2 separate regions of the Homo sapiens genome follow, and region 1 is linked to region 2. The links come from fine-mapping of genetic effects on plasma protein levels. A gene starts in region 2. The other region holds a variant in brackets. All regions are shown on one strand. Distances are from middle to middle.

Region 1 (5,339 bases), 44 kb before region 2:
GCTTATCACCCTGATGTGTTTTGTGGGCCCACCGGGTATGAGGTAGAGTGCAAAGCAAACTAATGTTGTGAAGCCAACATTCGTCTCTCAGCACCCCTTCCCAGGCCAGGTCCAGCCACTGACCCTGGGAATACGGAGATAACAAGACACAGCCCAGGCCTTGAGTGCAGGAATGGGAAGCTGGCGGCCATACTGAGTGCAGGAATGGGAAGCTGGTGGCCATATTGAGTGTAGGAATGGGAAGCTGGTGACCATATAGCAATAGCCAAATTATAGTCTAACACATTGCTGTCAATTGCACAGATTCACCTGGGAATAAGGCATCAAACATCTCCATACCAGGCCCTGTCCTAGGCCCTGGGTCACAGATGTAAACAAAGTCAACATGTGCCCTGGATGGAGCTGCTCAGTTCAGGGAACCGCAGGTTGCTGAGCATGGCTGGAGCACAGAGCAGGAGGTGGAACGTGATGAGAGACCAGTCGGAGAGACAGGCAGGGCCCGCTCACGAGGTGCCTTGATGCCTCGCAGAGGGACCTCGAGTTTTCCCTGGGGTGGTGGGGGCTGAGGAAGGAGTCAAGCAGGACAGACATTGGCAGATGCTCGAGGCATAGGCGCAGCACTGGGGACAAGAAGATCAAGCTCCCTTGGGAAGATTCCTAGCTGTGCTCCGCTCCTTCCCTCCTCTGTAAAATGGGGACAGGAGAAGTACTTATGTCTCCGGGTGGTCATGCAGTCCCATCTGTAACAAACACAGCCCTAAAATCTCCATGAGGGCAAGGACTCTGCTCACCCTACATCCCAGTGCCCAGAACAGAGCCCGGCATACAGTAGGTGCTCAGTACTGCTCAATACACGGCCACTACCGTCGTCTGCAATTATAGAGTTTTTTGATGGGCAGCATGAGAATGGCCTGGCTGCCTGTGGGGCGGGCAAGAAGAGCAGCAAACCCAACCGGAAGTCCCCTGGAATATCCGCTCCCTTGGGGACCTCACCCAGGCCCTACTGGGCCGGGATGTTCTGGCTCAAGACACACTCGCACAGTTCACAGACTTTGGAGCCTGGCCTGGGGGAGGTTTTGGAGCCTGCCCTGGGGGAGGCCGAGGTTGGAAGAACCCTTGGAGGGCAGCCAGGGCAGGTTTTCTGGCACCTGGCACATAGTAGGTGCTCAAAACATGTCTGTTGGAACCGAACTTGCCACCCCTAAGGCAGCCCTCCCCATCTTTGGATGTCTCACCTTGGGGTTCTAGAAAGTCCCCGCTGCGCGAACCTGCGCCCTCTCCTTGTACTCTCTGCTTTGACCTTAAGCAGAACAATCCAGGCTCGCTTTCAGATAAGACCTTCGAGGTACAGGGAGCCCCCATGCCCCTAGTACCTGGCTCAAGGCCTCATGAAAAGCAGTCCCTCCCCCTCTGAGGGCTAAGGCAGCTGAAAGGGGACAGGGAGTGGGGGAGGGAGTGCACAGTCCTGCTGGTCAGCTCTCCGTGTCATCCCCTGAACCCTGTACCCCAGAAAGCAGGAAGTGCCCAAGCCTCAAACAGCTGCTGCTTCCGGAAGATTCGAGTTTGCGTGCGGCTGGGTCCCCCAGGAGCATGTGAGGGGAGGAAGGAATTCAGGTCGGCCAGCCTTACCCAGCTCCTGCACCCCGCTCTGAGGCTCAGGAAGGCCACGTGGACTCCCCTGTAGGCATTTGCTTCTGCTGCCCTTGCCCCAACCCACGCTTCAGGTTCTACTTCCAGCCCCAGGCCCCAACATGGGCCTTCTGTTCCCCGCGTAGGCACACACCAGCCTGGCCTGTCTCTGGTGACCCCCTGAGTGGCCTCCACGTAGGTAACAGAGGTCACCTGCTGTTCCAATCCAGGGGGTGCAGGGGCCAGGCTTTGCGTCCTCAGGGCCCCCGCAGCTTAGAGCTCAGACCTGGCTACTGAGGAAAAATTCTGAAAATGCTTCCCAAGCGACGAGGCTAGATGCTGGTGAGGCCGTGCTCCAAGCCCCAACCTTGCCAGTCACTCTCTGTGACCCTGAGTAAGTCTCTTATCCTCCCTGGGCCTCAGATTTCCAATCTGTACAATGGCAAGGTTGGACTAGAAGAATCTAAGACCTTTTCCGTCTCAAAGATCCACCCATTCATTCATTCATTTATTCATTCATTCAGCAACATTTATTGAGCCCTTGGTCCTGGTGCTCAATAGGGATGAGCTACCTCCTAGTGATACAGCAGCGATCAAAACGGACACAGCCTCGTGGAGCTTGCTTCTCATGGGGGAGCCAACGTTCAAGAAAAAATAATAAATGAGCATATAATATTATTCCTGTAATATAAGAACCAGGCAGAAAAGGGAAATAGGGCAAAGGGTCAGACAGCAATGAGGTAGGGGCTGTCAGGAAGGCTTCTTGGAGGAGGTGACATTTGAGGCAAGCCCTGATTAGCGGAAGAACAAGCCAGATTCTGTGAATTCTGTTTGCGCAGAAGATGGAAAGTCATTGCTGATCACCATGTGAAGCAAAGGGCCCCAGCCTGGGACCCAGGACACCTGCATTCCTCTCCAGACACTGCCGGTCACTCGTTGTGTGACCGTGGGCAAGTCACTCCCACTCTTGGAGCCTCAGTGTTCTCATTTGTGTCTGAGGGTGGTGAGCCACAGCTCAAAGTTTCGTTAAAGCAGTTCTGAGAGGTTGCATTTCTGAGTATTTGGGTTCTGACTCAACCCCAGCCTCTCATGTTGATCAGGGACTGCAGAAGGACTGGCCTTTGTCCCTAAGGCCTATGAGGAGCAGTGAGAAGGCCCGGGGGCGGCCACACCCCGGCACTCACCTCTCGGCCCGCAGCTGCTGGGCCACAGCCATGGTGGGCGATGGTCCCAGGGAGCAGGTGGAGAGTCT[C/T]GCCCAGCCAGTCCCAGGCTGAGTTCACCTCTCACTTCCTCCAGCCACCCTGCGTCTCGTCTCAGCCTGTGGTCCTGGGAGTCCCCAGGAGCTGCCTTTGGGGAGGCTCAGGCCTGCTTCTCTCCAGTCTGGCAGAGGCTCCTCCTCCAGGCTCTCTGGGCCTAGCCTGTGGCCCACACTTCCTCTTACCTCACCTCCCAGCTGCACAGAAATTGAGGAAGTGGACCCTCGGGTGCCAGGTTTGCAGGAATCCACTTCCTTGATGTCAGTCCTTGGCGCCAAGCCTCAGTTGGGTATCAGAAGCCTTGCTCCATCAGAGATGGGGTCCCAGCCATCAGGGTGTCTTGTGACCTTGAGGAGTCACTTATCCTCTGGCCCATCAAGCCCCACCTTTATTCTCTTACTGCCAAGCCTTTGCCCAAACTCTTCCCCAGGCCTAGAATGCTGGCCTCCATTTTCCTGTGATCTCTTAGGCCCAGAGTAAATGCCACCTCCTCCAGGAAGCCCTCCTGGTTCCTCTGGCCTCTGTCTTCCTAGAGTGTGAAGTTTGGTTTGCGCGCCCTGGCACTCTGGGATATCCTTTCCTCATCCTTAGATCTCCATGCCCAGCCAATCCTCTTTCACAGGGCTGCCAATCAGAGTGAGTTTCACCCTCCCTGCTTAAACTCTCCTGCCCCATCACCCTGTGCTCAGGATAAAGTCCAGAGTCCTTGCCCTGCCTGCCTCCAATGCCCCTGAGGCCCTGCAGCCTTCCCCAGCCTCTGCTCCTGAGCTCCCTTTTTCTCACTGGCCTCCTTTCCGTTTCTAGAATGTTCTAAGACGTCCGCCCCAAGGCCTATGCTCATGGTGTTCCCTCTGCTGGAAAAAGCTCTTCACTGCCTCCTTTGCATCTCAGCTTAGAAGCTACATCTTTAGCGAGGCCTTCCCTGACCACACACCCTAAATTAAGGCCCTCCCTACTACATTCTCTCACAGGTCCCTGCACGTCTACTGCAGAGCACTCATAACTATTGTCATCTCACATTTGTTTGTTTATCTGTATGTTTAATGACTGCCTCCTTGGCTAGCAGCGTGCCTGGCACATTGCAAGTGCTCAACCAATATTCAGTGAATGAATGAAACGCTGCCAGTCAGTGACTGCAGCTCCTAACAGGTATGGGTATTTGATTCTGAAGGGACTTCTCTGAGAAGAGGTCCACAGGAGTCATTGGCACAGCCACACCCAGTAACTCCCTGCCAGCTACACACGCTCACACACTCGTATTCATACATGCAGAGCAGAAAGTTGTTTTAAACTACTTTAAACATACAAGTCCCAGCTAAAAAAAACAAGAAAGCATAATTTTTAGGTAGGATCAAAGAGAGGGGTCAGGAATCTATACCAGGGGGAGAGGAACGTGGCCAACAGCCCATGGGAAAACCAAGATTGGATATGCATTGTTGGGCTGAGATTTTAATGCCAAATCTGGGACTAGGTACAGGCCACAGGTCCTGCTGTTAGCAGAAAGTCAAATCTGAGTTCTCAGTGTAAAGTGGGTGTCAGAACTGATTATGGGAACAGAGTTTCTCAGCCATCAGCCTAGAGTCACGGCAGGAGCTGAGGTCCTCTCACAGTCCATGGGTGGAACAAGGGACGTGTGTACCAGATCAGCCTCAAGCCTGCCCTCTGCACTGGTGTAAGGCCCCGATATAAGCTACCCACGTGGTGCAGAAATCCTAAGCTGAGGCATTATATAAAAACAGCTTGGAGTCAGTGACTCTGCAGGGCCTACTCTGTCAACTCACAGACCAAAACTACAAATCGTGAGCTGTGAAAGACAGCTCAGAGCCTCCACATCATGAAGAATTCACACCCAAAGAACTAGAAATAATACAAACAATAAGTCTGATGAGTTGCTGGTGTCTCGGGGCTCCCAGGCTAGAGGATGAAATGAAACACAGAGCAGGGTTATTAGTGCAGGTGTCTGTAAGTACCAACAGGTGCAAGCACACAGCCATAACTGAGGGAAGAGGAGGACATTGGCCTACAGTTGGTCAGGAAGGACAGGAAGTGGCAAAACAATTTTAGCAAGCAAGCATGATACAGAATTTGTAGGTGATTGTGTAAACTGTGTGTGTAGTATATGCCTATAGTTGGAAACACATATTTGTGTATAAACACATACAGCTCGCATAGGCAAGTGTAAGTGCATTTGTGTTGTGTCTATAAAAGACCATATAATGTGTATAGTGGTGGCATTGTGGCTGTGAGAGAATGTGTTTAGATGTTTAGGTTGCAGTCGGTGACAAATGAGTATAAACACAAGTACATTTATAATAGGTGAACTCAGGCAAGATAACATGTCCTTTTTGAACCTTTCTTCTTCACCAATCTGTGAAACAGTCTTGCCTAATGGAGTTGTAGTAGGAATTAATAGAAAACTGTATAAAAGTGCCTAGACACATGGACATTTCTTAT
Region 2 (5,314 bases):
ACCTCCAGGCTCACTTCCCGACAGGACTTCCCACCAGCCCAGCCTTTCAGTGCAGGCTCCAGCCCTCCACCCCCACCCGAGGTGAGTGGCAGCTACCGAGGTTGGAGGATAGAGGGATGCAGCAGGATGAGCCAGCTGGAAGGGAGAGCTACATCTCCCCTGTCCGTAGTGACCCGGGGAGGGGGGTGCGGTGGGGGTGCTGGAGGCAGGGCAGCTGTGGAATGTAGGGCTGAGAGCATGCATTCCTGCTTCTCCACCCAGACTCCTGGTGTGGCCTGGGGCAAACTCCCCCCACCCACCGCCCCCCGTGGCTGGGCCTCAGATTCCCCAGCCTTAGAACGAGAGGGCTGGAGTCAGACATCTGTGGACTCTGGTGATGCCATCAGAGAGGACCCAGAGGGCAGAGGAGGACTACCCAGGGCTGATGGGCTGACCTAATGACATTGATGCTCTGGCTGGGAGGGCTCAGTCCCGGAGGGGGTGTCAAGTTGATAGGAGAACTCAGCAGCAGGGAGAGATGGAGGAAGGAGATGGAAGAAGAGTGGGCCCCTGTTGAGGCTGCAGCCTTTGCCACAGGGTAGCTGCTTAGGGGCTCACCAGGAGCCAGTGTGTGGCTGAGATGTATGGGACCTGATAGAGCTGGGTCCCAGGCACCAGGGAGGATCACCCAGAGAGTCACTGAACTCCACACGAGTGAGTCCAGGGGTGTACCCTGCTCTGCTATTGCTTTACCATGTGTCCTTAGACCATTCACGGACTCTGTGCCTCCGTTTCTCCACTGGTATAGCTGAAGCGTCCTTCAGCTGGGGAAATCCATTCTCCAACTAGGCTCCTGGAGTGAGCTGAGCCTGGGAGTTGAAATGATAGCATAGGAGCCTGGCATATCTGAGTCAGCAGCCCAGCTGGGGACAAGGTGCAGAGGTGACGGCAGTAGCAGCAGGGTCCAGGGCAGCTGAGGGGTCCTGGGAAGTCCTGGAGCTGAGAGGCATCAGGTCAGGAGCTGCATCCTTGGTGCCTTGGAAGCCATCTGGCGGGCTGTGGCTTGAAGGAGCTGACTCACAGGGAGGGGGCAGCTGGAGCCAGCAGAGGTATCCTAAGGTTTCCAGGAAGGGCAGCCATCCAGGGCTGAGCTGCAGGAGACAATGTTGACAGCGATGTCAGGGAACTTGAGTTACTGGGCAGCTGGACAGCTGCTCTCCCTGGTCCCCACCACCCAGGGCCACCACAGCCCAAGGCCCTGCCTACCTGCCAATACCTTAAGTTGCAGTCCCCAGGTCCCACTACATGGGACCACTGACGTCATCAACACATCAGAAGGAGACAGAAGCCCAGAGAAGGTCACAACCCAAGGTCACACTGGGACTTAGTGCAGCCCAGGATCTAGAACCCAGGCCTCCTGACTCCCTGTCCAGCGCTCACACACTCTAGAAGCAGCTGGTTGCAGCTTGAAACCTTGGGAACCATGGGGAAGAACACAACGGGTCTCTGGCTGCATACAGATAGGCACCGTGACATTTTTCCAGAGGTGAAGTTCAGACCCCTACACCTGCTTAGGTTGTCTAGAAAGTGTGGTCTGAAGGTGCTACCCTTCTTCCAAACACATATGGGGCTTTCTGGGAGGGAGCATAGCAATTCCAAGCGGACTCTCCCACCCTACTCTGCCCAAAAAAGGTTTATAGGAGTAGGGGGAGTCTGGACCCATGATGCCAGGACCCAGGAGACCAGGAAAGCAAGTAGTTAGTAGAGATCTGAGAAGTGTTCTTCGAAAAATCAAGCCAGCAAAAAAATAAAAAATAAAAGTAAAACATCAAATCAGGTTTTAGAATATGCATCCCTGGCCAGATGTGGGATGGGGCACCCGAAGTGGGCCCCAGCAGCTCCTGCCTGTCCCTGTCCCTGTCCCTGCCACCTCCTCCCTGCGTCGGGTGGGTCAGGTTTCAGGACCTCAGCGCTCAGATTTTGCAGCATAAATTTGCATCCAGGACAGACCAGAGCAGAGGCTGAGGTAGGAGTGGAGAGAGAAAGGGAGCAGGGCCTAGGAGGTCCTGAGGTGCAGGCTGGCCGCTGAAGGTTCAGGATCTTCCCCCACGCGGCAGGACATCCGCCAAGGTTCCCAGATCTGAGACGGCGCACCTCCTGCGTGTCCTTGACGGCAGGTGGACTTTCCAGACCCAGCTGGTGACGCCAGTGCCCCCTAAATCCCAGAGGTGGCCCCTTCCCTCGTGCCCTGGCCGCAGCCCCTGGGATCCCGCGGACCCCTGGCCTGGCGGTGCAGGAGTGGTAGCAGGTCCGCGCGCCTTCTTGCCGGCGGCCGGCGCTGCTCAGCGGCGCGGCTGGACTGAGCCGCTCCCGCTGCGCTCAGAGTCCGGGCCCCTGGCGCCATGCCAGGCCCGGCGGGCGTGCGCCCGGCGCGCAGCACTGCAGCGCTGGTCATATGAGCAGAAATGATGAGAAAAGCACTTTTTAATCTTTTCGCACTTGCTCTGCCCGCTCAAACAGTTGCAGGATGTCGATGACAGACTTGCTGAACGCTGAGGACATCAAGAAGGCGGTGGGAGCCTTTAGCGGTGAGCAAGCGCGCTCCCCTCCCCATCCCTCTCCCCTCGTCCACCGCCCGCGCCCCTGCACTCCGCCGGCCCCGCAGCCGGCGGATCCTCCCCAGCGCGCTTCTGCCCACACTTCCCGCTGGGCGCCGGCGAGGTCGGGGCGGGGGCGTCCTTGGCAGTTCCCAAACTCTGTCCGGGCGAGGCTTGGCGCGGGGAGCGGGCGGGGAAGAGGGCGCCCCGCCTAAGTTACAGAAACTTGAGGGTGCTGAAGGCCCGGTGGCTGGGAGGACTCAGGGTCCGGGACCAAGGGCGAAGACCAGGGTCGGAGGAGAGACCTCCAGGGTCCTTGTACGAGCTCTCTGGACGTCCTCTTTAAGGCACTTAGAGGGGACTGCAGGGGGCATCCTCCTCTCCAAGAGACCCCTTTCCTGGACCCTCATTCTGGACAGGACTTTTCCCGCCAGGCGGTAGCCTTTGTTGGCCCCCTGACTGTCCTAGTTCCTTTACTGAGATTCAGCAACGGACCTGCGGGCGAGGTGACCTTCTGGAGCCGGCGCACAGCTCTGCCTAAGCCCGCACGGGGCATCCTCAGTGCCTCAAACCTCCAGCCTCCTTAGGCGGGCAGGGGAGGGGAACTGGCAGTCTCACCTCTCCCAGCTGCCCGGGACTTCAGCGCTAAGCTGCCCGCCTTCCTCCTCCCCTGTCCTCCAGATGGGGAAATCAGGGAACTGTCTTGGAGAGGACAAGACATTTGCCCAAGGTCACCTAGCTGGGCAGAAGGGGTATTAGAACTGGGTTGCCCAGCCTAGTGTCGGAGGTGGACAGGGCAACTTTCCTTGTCTCTAGCCCTGTGCTGAGGGGAAGAGAACATGACTTCAACAGCCATTCCCTACACACACACACACACACACACACACACAAAATACATGATCTAACATTGTACCCTTCCCCAGGTGTTCTAAAACAGGACCCCAAGATACAGAAAATTGCAGGTAGAAAAGGACCCCCATTTCCTTTCTGCTTTGCACCCCCTCCCCTGGGCACAAGAACCTCTCTGGGAAGCCACCCTCCCAGGGTCCTGGGATAACCCTCTCCCTTCACCTCAAGCCCATGTGGGAAGAAACTTAACTGGGTGTTTCTCGGGAGCCTCCTAACACCCCCTTCCCACTGCCTCCGAAGTGGATTTCTGCGCAGAGCCAGGACTTCCGGGTTTGCCCCTCCTCCTCCCACTGTATGACCTTGAGGGAAACCTGTCCTTTCTATGTCAATTTTCTGGCAACAAAGTCTGTGGCCAAGAAAGAAGGTCAACCCTCCTCCCCCTAACCCCAGGACCATGTTCATGCCCCCTTCAATTCCCCAGCCCACTCCCAACCAGCTGGCACTCAAAAGTCTTCCTGGGCACAAGGTTCTCAGAAGAACAAAAGCCTTTGGTTCTTAGGTGCTGCTCCCATCATCAGCAATGGGTGCAGTGGAGGTGGGGCGTGGGGGCGGGCTTGAGAGCCAGGGAGGTCTGGGTTTGAGCACACCTCTTCCACTCCCAGCCTTGTGACCTTGGACAGGTTATCCTCCCTTGCCCGGGCTCCCTCAGCCCTCCAATGGAGGTGGGTACCTCTCATTCCCCATGACTGGCATGTGGGAATCCATCAACAAATGCCTTGATGCCCCCCATTCTCCCAGGCTTCCCTACCAGCCTTTCTGGTCCTTGTTTGACCCTGCTCTTCCCCCCACAGCTACCGACTCCTTCGACCACAAAAAGTTCTTCCAAATGGTCGGCCTGAAGAAAAAGAGTGCGGATGATGTGAAGAAGGTGTTTCACATGCTGGACAAGGACAAAAGTGGCTTCATCGAGGAGGATGAGCTGGGGTAAGCGGAGGCCTGCAGGGGCTGCCCAGCCCACGGCTGCACGAGAGGGAGTGGGGGCTGGGACTCTAGCTTCCAAGTGTCCATCAGACCTGCCTTTCACTCTGCCTGCTTCACAGAAAGTAACCGTGCGTGAAGGCAGGGCTCCGACCCAGGGCACCAGGGGAGAAGGCTTCCTGGTGCTATTGCTTCGGAAGAGTAAAACCCTCAGCTGAAAGTGCAACTAACTAGGTTAAATGATAGCCACTTAATATTGCTAATGGAATGTTGCTACTTAATAATTTAATGCAAATGAAGAGGCAGTTTTCTTGCTGCCTAACACCATAGGCAGGGCAGAAAGCATTCACTTGAGTATTTCATTGATTTTCATTTGTCTAAAAGACACTTTCCACCTTCCTGCAGCCCCCAGCCCTCTGGTACTAGTGTGGCTGGTGCAATTTCTAGGCAAGCCAGGGATGCAGAACCACCTCTGAGAGTCCAGGGGTCCTTGGAGAAAAGCAGAGAAGGAGAAGGCTGTGGCTAGGAAAATGCATGCCTCCATCTGCAAAAGCATCTCCCACCATAATTCCCTCAGCCACCCGGCCATGTCTACTGACTCAGGTTGCCTTATGTCACTTTCTGGCCAAGAAAGCCTTGAGTTTTGTCAAAAAGAGAAGCGGGGGGTGGGTGTAGGGAGAGGCCTTTCAAGTAGGGACTTCCCCACCCATCCTGTCTCTCCCCTAAACCATCTCACAAGGGTACCTTCTGTCTAGAATCTTCACGTTCTACCCACTTACATCCAACATGCATGCACACTTATGCACACACACACACACACACACACACACACACACACACTCACAGAGGCTGACTTCCCCCTGTCCTCCAGGTATCACCTTCACCAGGAAGCCTCCCCTCTCCTCCCCTCA

Alleles and levels. Positions count from the first base shown, and alleles are read on the strand shown. Strength reflects both the effect of a copy and how common the allele is.
For the plasma level of the protein whose gene starts at base 2,477 in region 2, allele T in region 1 goes with a lower level than allele C (weak association).

Evidence for each region. A credible set is the group of variants that fine-mapping cannot tell apart. PIP is the chance, under the fine-mapping model, that this variant and not a neighbour inherited with it causes the effect. The UK Biobank Pharma Proteomics Project read protein levels with antibody pairs (Olink). The fine-mapping took linkage between variants from a reference panel, not from the people measured, so its PIPs are less certain.
Region 1: its variant is the best candidate, but not a certain one, in a credible set for the plasma level of the PVALB protein (UK Biobank, PIP 0.77).

The regions. Positions count from the first base shown.
Region 1 is chr22:36,858,678-36,864,016 of GRCh38, reverse strand. It overlaps NCF4 (neutrophil cytosolic factor 4), which reads right to left and starts at 3,011. Exons shown (of 10, transcript NM_000631.5): 1 at 2,814-3,011. The coding sequence starts at 2,845. The region is part of intron 1 of NCF4-AS1 (NCF4 antisense RNA 1); the gene reads left to right. The variant C/T (reference allele first, on the strand shown) is at 2,882.
Region 2 is chr22:36,814,198-36,819,511 of GRCh38, reverse strand. PVALB (parvalbumin) reads left to right here and starts at 2,477. Exons shown (of 4, transcript NM_001315532.2): 1 at 2,477-2,567; 2 at 4,277-4,409. The coding sequence starts at 2,507.